Linked DNA regions of Homo sapiens: region 1 is reported to be linked to region 2. Evidence: microRNA targets listed by miRTarBase, many of them from high-throughput screens and not tested one by one. Region 2 holds a microRNA gene; the other region holds the end of a gene's coding sequence.

What was found. The annotated mature microRNA hsa-miR-3657 reads UGUGUCCCAUUAUUGGUGAUU and lies in region 2 at 2,597-2,617, opposite strand. An mRNA with a match to its seed (bases 2 to 7 or 8) in the 3' UTR can be bound and repressed. Matches are read on the target gene's strand: a 7mer-m8 pairs with bases 2 to 8, a 7mer-A1 pairs with bases 2 to 7 and ends in A, and an 8mer does both.
Region 1: the mRNA of CYLC2 is a reported target of hsa-miR-3657. Seed matches in the 3' UTR shown: 7mer-A1 at 877-883.

The regions. Positions count from the first base shown.
Region 1 is chr9:103,005,140-103,009,542 of GRCh38, forward strand. CYLC2 (cylicin 2) reads left to right here. Exons shown (of 8, transcript NM_001340.5): 5 at 1-1,239. The coding sequence ends at 539. Among named protein-coding and RNA genes, the nearest start is that of CYLC2, 12 kb to the left of the region's middle.
Region 2 is chr12:112,035,031-112,039,433 of GRCh38, forward strand. It overlaps MIR3657 (microRNA 3657), which reads right to left and starts at 2,685; the gene lies at 2,569-2,685. It overlaps NAA25 (N-alpha-acetyltransferase 25, NatB auxiliary subunit), which reads right to left. Exons shown (of 24, transcript NM_024953.4): 22 at 4,199-4,309.

The DNA.
Region 1 (4,403 bases), not on the chromosome of region 2:
AGGGCAAAGACTCAGCAACAGAATCTGAAGATGAAAAAGGAGGTGCAAAGAAAGATAACAAAAAAGATAAAAAGGATTCAAACAAAGGCAAAGACTCGGCAACAGAATCTGAAGGTGAAAAAGGAGGTACAGAGAAAGATAGCAAAAAAGGTAAAAAGGATTCAAAGAAGGGCAAGGATTCAGCCATAGAATTACAAGCTGTAAAAGCAGATGAAAAGAAGGATGAGGATGGAAAAAAAGATGCAAACAAAGGTGATGAATCGAAGGATGCCAAGAAAGATGCAAAGGAGATTAAAAAAGGTAAGAAAGATAAGAAGAAGCCCAGTAGTACAGACAGTGACTCAAAGGATGATGTCAAGAAAGAGTCTAAGAAGGACGCCACGAAAGATGCCAAGAAAGTTGCCAAGAAAGATACTGAGAAAGAATCTGCTGATTCAAAGAAGGATGCAAAGAAAAATGCTAAGAAGGATGCAAAGAAGGATGCAAAGAAGAATGCAAAGAAGGATGAAAAGAAGGATGCAAAGAAGAAGGGCAAGTAGGCCTTGGATAAGAATTTGAACCGAAAGAATAATTCAAAAGCATATTTGATGAAACAATAGTGGTAGTCTGCAGCTGAATTTGTGAGAAAACAAGAGGCCTCAAAGAATTAAATAATTTTTAAAAGGTGGTAAAGAAGGATACAAAGGAGAACTCAGCAGAGATTTATAAAAATATATAAGAAAGATGTTAAGAAAAATTAAGGGGGGATCCATTGAAAGACTTGAAGAATACATATACTTATATTCGGGGATATGAAGGATTCAATGAATGATCTCTAGAAAGATTTAAAGAAGAATATTCAGATAAGGATGTTGAAGATAATGACACTAAATCTATGGACACACACACACACACACACACACACACACACACACACACACACACACACACACAGTTTAATGAAGGCTTAAAGAATCCAAGGAGACAGATGTTGTATCTATAGATTTAAAATAATCTCAAGCTGCATCCACAGATACAAAAAAATATAGGAGCCATGAAATGAAGTTAAACACCTTGTAGAAAGCCTACTTTCAAGTAAATATAGCATTCCTTTGGCAAAAAGAAAAAAAAAGTAAAAGAAAAGAAAAAAAATGTATTACCACCCGATGAGCCTACATCTTTCTTTCTGAAGTTTAAACAACCACAGTCATGTTTATGGTTGTTGGATGTGCCACTTCCAATCCAAAAGAAGCACACTTGGTAAGTCAGTTTTGTTTTGTTTACTTATTTATTTATTTATTTATTTATTTTTTGAGATGGAGTCTCTCTCTGTCGCCCAGGCTGGAGGGCAGTGGCGCGATCTCGGCTCACTGCAAGCTCCGCCTCCTGGGTTCACGCCATTCTCCTTCCTCAGCCTCCCAAGTAGCTGGACTACAGGCGCCTGCCACCAAGCCCAGCTGAATTTTTTTGTATTTTTAGTAGAGACGGGGTTTCACCGTGTTAGCCAAGATGGTCTCAATCTCCTGACCTCGTGATCCGCCCGTCTCGGCCTCCCAAAGTGCTGGGATTACAGGCGTGAGCCACCGCGCCCGGCCAGTTTTGTTTTATTTTAAGCCAGATTGAATTAATTATTGTCTTTTTCATTTTTGAGGGTACATAGTAGATTTAATAATAATTGAACCAAATTATAATTAGATAGGAGGAATAAGTTCAAAAGATCTATTTTATAGCATGGTGACTATAGTTAATGACAATATATTGTATTCTTGAAAAATCAATGCTAAGAGAATGAACATTGTGCTCTCATCGCATAAATGATAACCATGTGAGGTGATGCTTATGTCAATTAGCAAGATTTCAGGATTCCACAATGTATACATGCTTCATAACATCATATTGTACACGATAAATATGCTTTTACTGATCAAATTAAATAAATTTAAAATAATAAACATCAAACTAAAGGTTCAAATTGACACTGTTCTTATATTATCTCTGTAATTTTCTGAGTAAATTTCTTTTAGAATTTTATGAAGTTTGGACTTTCTCATGTTAAGAAATATTCAAAGAACATGGAGAGACAACGAAATAAATGAAGCTTTAAAAAGTGTCTGTGGAAAGGTTAAGGAAGTCTGTCATGAGGGAGAGGTTACTAGCTTATGATAGATGATATTATTACCAATTAAGCATCCAAAGTTTTAAAATAGAAAATATTAATCAATTTATTTTGATTGAAAGAAGGATGAAACTCAAAATTGTTTATTACCAACAAGAACAAATTTAAATGAGGCATATGAAAGAGCTACTTGATAAATGGCTAAATACTTCACAAAACTAAATTAACCAAAATTTAACAGAGTGTAACAGAGTAAGAATATATACATAATATTTATTTAGATGTGGAAACAATTAACTTACTGTCTCTAAAACAGTAAAACTCTGTATTAAACTCTGTTGTGACCCATAAGTCCTGTTGATTTGAGGAAAAAATAAAAAGCAGTATTAAGCAAAATGCAATATCCTTGAACTTCTCAATTAAATGACAATTCATTTATTTCTGATTTAACATTTTCTTAAATAAACTCAGTGTTGCTGCAGAACTTGCTAAATGATTTTCTCTTTTTATTCTTCCTGACACAAACTTTGGATGCAACATAAAGCTTCTCTTGGACATTAAAGGAAGGGTCTCCTAGTCTGTATGTTCCTAAGAGCTACCTTCCAAGGAACAGTAAGGAATAATTGTTTTTCTTTAACACTTAACATTGGGTCCTGTCCCTCCTGCATCAACTACTAAGAGTCAGTGGTTATTGTAACTCCTGATCTGCCAGGTGATCACACGTTGTTAGCCTGGGTCAGCTGTAATGGCAGAGGGAGTCAAATCCTGGCCCTTTGTTCTCCTCCCACTCCCTCTAGGAACCTGCTCATCATCTTCCTCTGCATATAGTAAAATTATGTGTTGAGATTGCTAAACTTTTCTGGAAATGTTACCATCTCTCTGAAGATTTAGGAAATCATTTCAAATCCTCTTTTTCCTCTATAAAAAGGCCCTTAAAATTATTTTCACCAATAGGATTCAAAAGTCAGGTTTTAGATTGAAATGTAATGTAAAATGACAGAAAAATTGAGCTTCTACCTTTAATATCCTACTGAGGTGCGCCATCACTAAATTTTCTTGTAGTTAAATTTAATAGCAGTGTCCTTTTATTCCAGTACCTCTTCATTTACATCTATGTTGTTTTCTCAGTTATTCCAATAAAAAATAAAAATGAAAAAAATGGCTTTACATACCATTCTTATGCTGTTGAATTTTATATTTAAATCTAGTATTTACTTATTTACTCAGTTCCATATTCCCATATCCAAATACTTACTTAAGCACCTAGTTGACTAGCTTCCAGGTATCTCAAAATTAACAAATCCCAAAGAGAACTGTTGACATCCCTCCAGCAATGCCTCTTTCTCCCCAAGTTCTGCCAAACCCATTAAATGACGTTGGTATCCAATCTGTAGCTTAATCCAAAATCAGTGAGTCATCCCTAATTACTCTTTTTTCTTCACCCTGCCTACTAGTAGTAAGTCCTATCCTGTCTACCTACAAAATACTCGAGTTGGTATAATTCATTACATTTCTACCACTTCTGTACACTAAAAGTCCAATCAACCATTATCTCTTACTTGAAAACTCCAAAGCCCTCTAAGTGCAGGGGAAGCCCCTGCTTCATGTCTCTCCACAACGCCATATCCCATTCTTCATATAGAAACCATCATGTTTCTCCCTTGGTCAAAGCTTTCTAGTGTACTGATGCCACACTTACCATCAACTTTTCTTTTGCTCTGGCTTATAATGCATTAATGATCTGTGTGCTGACTATTTCCCTGCCCTCATGTGACAACACTATTCCTTTTGTCTACCATGCACTTGTTGCATTGGATTTTTAAAAATATTTTACCACATGTAACCTTACAATATTAAGCCTTTACACTTGTTCCTTCTCCATAGAATGCAATTCTCCTAGAACATCACACTGTTGACTCCTTCAAAATAGTCATTCTCAGCTTACATTTTACATTTCCAGATATATTTCATAGACTAATTTATTTTTTGACACAGTGTCTCTCTCTGTTGCCCAGGCTGAGGTACAATGGTGTGATCACAGCTCACTGCAGCCTCAACCTCCCCAGGCTCAGGTGATTCTACCACCTCAGCCTCCCCAGCAGCTGGGACTACAAGAGCTCTTCACCACATCCAGATAATTTTTGTATTTTGTAGAGATGGAGTTTTGCCATGTTGCCCAGACTGGTCTCCAACTCCTGGGCTCAAGCAATCCACCCGCCTCAGCCTCCCCAAGTGCTTGGATTACAGGAATGGTACTATCAGAGACTAGATGTTAATAATTACATCATGGAGAATGGGGTAACTACCC
Region 2 (4,403 bases):
GTTATATGAAAACAAAAAGGCAAGTTACAGAACCTTCTGGATAGCAGGTTTGTTTACCACGAAAATTTTCCCAGTGGTTATTACTGACTGGTAAGTATATGAATGATCTTCACTTTATTCACACCTTTATGGGTTACTCTGATATCAGAAAAACCATTCTCATTTTTAGAAACCAGAAAGACAACAAAAAACACTACAAAAGACAATTCCCAAAAAGCTATCTGACATGTTCTAGGGCTGAAAGCTTTCATTAGAAGGAGAGCAACAAAGCCAATCTGACCTATACTTTCAAACTTTGCCCTCCTTTTTTTTTTCCTTTTTGTCTTGCTATGTTGCCCAGCCTGGTCTTGAACTCCTGGGCTCAAGCTATTCTCTCACCTCTGCCTCCTTAAGTGCTGGGATTACAAGCATGAACGACCAGTGCCCAGCCTCGAACTTTGTACTCTTGATCAGTTAAATCATCTTTGTCTCTGTTCTTGTTCTTGTTTAATTCTCCTGAATAGAGTGAAGGAGAGTAGCACCCTCATTCATATCTAAATACCCTTTGTTTGTGAATGAATAGTAACACTCAGCAGAGCATCCAATCTAAAGAACTCCTGGATTTAACTGAATTGTTCAGAAAGTCAATTTACAACTGAAACATCAACTTTCTTTTTTTTTTTTTTTTGAGACAGGGTCTTGCTTTGTCATCCAGCCTTGTACAGTGGTGCGATCACAGCTCACGGCAGCCTCAATTTCCCAGGCTCTGGTGATCCTCCTGCTTCAGCCTCCTGAGTAGCTAAGACTGACTACGGGCATGTGCCACCATGCCCAACTAATTTTTAAAAATTTTTTTGTTAAGACAGGGTCTCATTATGCTGCCCAGACTGGTCTCAAAACTCCCGGGCTCAAGCAATCTCCCCACCTTGGCCTCCCCAAATGCTGGGATTATAGGTGTGAACCGCAGCACCCAGCCAACATTTTCAAATGATAATGATTATTATAATGCTATAGCAAACAAAAGACCCCCATTGATAGTAACAGCATAAACTCAAACCTTAATAAAACAGCACATCATGAGCTGTAATGAGCACTAAATTATTTTCCTGTGAAATGGAAAAAAATGTTACTGTTTTTCACATTCAAAAATTAAATCAATAAAGATGGGGAGAGCCCTAAAACTGAATACAAATGGAAATAAACTTTATATGATATTAATAAAAAGTAATCTCAGTTTTTAATTCCAGTTTACAGAGTATCTTAACTGTCTATACTCACTGGAACGTATTCTAAGGACAAAAAGAATTGCAAAACATTTGAACTTTAATGAGTTTGTTATTGGAACTAGTAGTGGAACTGACGTATGAATTCCCAAAACTATTTAGTATTTACTGTGAAACAACAAATAAATATATTGATGATATTTGGATGCAGGGTTCTCACTCTGAGAAAAGGAAGCTACAAAAAGGGAATGAGGGAAAGAGTGGAAAGAACTCTTGAAACTGAGAGTATCACTAAAATGCTGGCTTGAAAGTATCACTAAAAATTCTTTATGTAGGCCAGGCATGGTGACTCATGCCTGTAATCCCAGCACTTTGAGAGGCCGAGGCAGGTGGATCACCTGAGGTCAGGAGTTAGAGACCAGCCTGGGCAACATGGCAAAACCTCATCTCTACTAAAAATACAAAAACTAACTGGGAGAGCGGCATCTGCCTGTAATCCCACCTACTCAGGAGGCCGAGGGAGGAGAATCGCTTGAAACTGGAAAGTGGAGGTTGTAGTGATTGCGCCATTGCACTCCAGCCTGGGCAACAGAGCAAGACTCCATCTCAAAAAAAAAAAAAAAAGTACGTAAAACTGTGTGTGCGTGTGTGTGTGTGTGTGCACGCGCGTGTGCATAAAAACGCTGTCTAGTTCTCGTCATAGAAATAAACTAGAAGCAGTGAACCCCAATAGCAATGAGCACACTAACACCTAGATCTTGGTTTTGAAATTCATTCCCCAGAAAGGAACCAGTGCTCTTGAAAAAATGTCTGATTTCAGTTCACTGAAAAAATACCAAGTATGTGGAGCATTTATGCTGTTCCAGAAAGCGCCCTAAAACTGATGAGGACATGTTAAAGGACAGAAACCAGCTTAAAGGAGCTAGCCAAATTTGGCATAATTTGAGCATCCAAATGAAAATTATGATAATGGCTTATAATAAAGTGAACTTTTTAAAAAAGAGTCCATGGTGATACTCAGATAGCGATATTTTAAAAAATACATATATATATATATATATATATATATATATATATATATATATATATTCAAATTGGAATATATTCAAATATGTATGAATGGGTTGGGACATCTCTTATTTTACAAAATAATAGCAGCTGATAAATGATAAAAGACAGAATTTTTAAAAATCATCATTTGGGACACGTCAATGTAATAACTAATTCAGGCGCTGAACTAACAATGAATGCTAAAACCAGTGGGTGAAGGGCCATTGGGAAATAGGATATTCATAGACTCAAGCATTATCCTATAGCTTACTTATTACAGAGGGAAAAAGGCACCTTTATAAAGAAATCTGGTAGATATGTCCTTAATCATATATGAAATCTGAAATCACCAATAATGGGACACAACAACATTAATCACATTAGTGTCCCATTATTGGTGATTTCAGATTTCATTATTTAATTATGGGACACAACAACATTAGTGACTCCTGATTTAACTCACTAAAAAGGACAACATGTCTATATTTAACTTCAATATAAGCAATCAGCTTACATTTAGCAATCAGCTAAATCCAGATTGTGGGACATTCTACCAAAAAGCAAGCTAGTGTCTTCAACAATAAAAACAAAGTAAAAGGTTAAGGAAGCGTTCTAGATTAAAGAAGGGTAAACACACATGACAACTAAAGGTCATGTCAGATCCCTGACGGCATTCTAGTATTTTGAAAAAGGTATAAAAGACATAATTGAGATAAGTGGAAAACTTTGAATACTGATTTTTTTTTCCTGAGACGGAGTCTCGCTCTGTCATCCAGACTGGAGTGCAGTGGTGCTATCTTGGCTCACTGCAACCTCTGCCTCTCGGGTTCAAGCAATTCTCATACCTCAGTCTCCCAGGTAGCTGGGATTACAGATGCTCACCACCATGCCCGACTAATTTTTGTATTTTTAGTAGAGATGGGGTTTCACCATGTTGGTCAGGCTGATCTTGAACTCCTGACCTCAAGTGATCTGCCCGTCTCGGCCTCCCAAAGTGCTGGGATTACAGGTGTGAGCCACCACATCCGGCCTGAATATGGACTTTATTAGATAATATCATTGTATCAATGCTAAATTTCTTGAGTTTGAAATTTTCTTGAGTATTATGGTTTTGCAGAGACCTGTCCTTGTTCTATCCTGATGTGTTACATGTCACAAGTCTGTACTTTCCTTTTACATGGTTCAACAAATGAGAGATAAAACAAATGAGATAAATGGTTAAAAATTGATAATCCAGGTAAAGATCTTTATGGGTGTCATATTAATCTTTCAATTTTTCTGTAGGTGTATAATTTAATTTTTTTTAAGTTAGGGGAGAAAAACAACGCATATGCAGGGATGTCCAATCTTCTGGCTTCCCTGGGCCACACTGGAAGAAGAATTGTCTTGGGCCACACATAAAATACACTAATGTTGGCCAGGTGCAGTGGCTCACGCCTGTAATCTCAGCACTTTGGGAGGCCGAGGTGGGCAGATCACTTAAGGTCAGGAGTTTGAGACCAGCCTGGCCAACAGGGAGAAATCCCGTCTGTACTAAAATACAAAAATTAGCCGGGTGTGGTGGCAGGCGCCTGTAATCCCAGCTACTCGGGAAGCTGAGGCAGGAGAATCACTCGAACCCAGGGGGCAGAGGTTGCAGTGAGCCAAGATAGTGCCACTGAACTCCAGCCTGGGCTATAGAGTGAGATTCCATCTCAAACAAAAACAAAACAAAACAAAAAAAACACTAACAATAGCTGATGAGCTTTAAAAAAAAACTCAAAAAATCTCATAACGTTTTAAGAAAGTTTACGGGTTTGCGACGCATTCAAAGTCATCGTGGGCCATGGGTTGGAGAAGCTTGGCATATAGGATCCTAAGGACTCAACATGGAGGAAAACAGTGAAAAGAAAAAGTAGCATGTGGTCAGATTGTTCCTTGTATATCACTTGTGTTACTGTTATTACCATGATGATGCTGGTTTCTTTTTTCTTCTTTTTCTTTTTCTGTAAATTTAGTTTGTATGGTCGTAGGACACTCTCACAGTAACTGGATACCCAAAGGATAACAGAAATAGTCTGAAAGGAAAAATTGCAAATTCACCAATAAGGATTACACTAAAAATATCTATCAGGAAATTAGAGGCAATGGATTCAACAAATTCTAACGCAG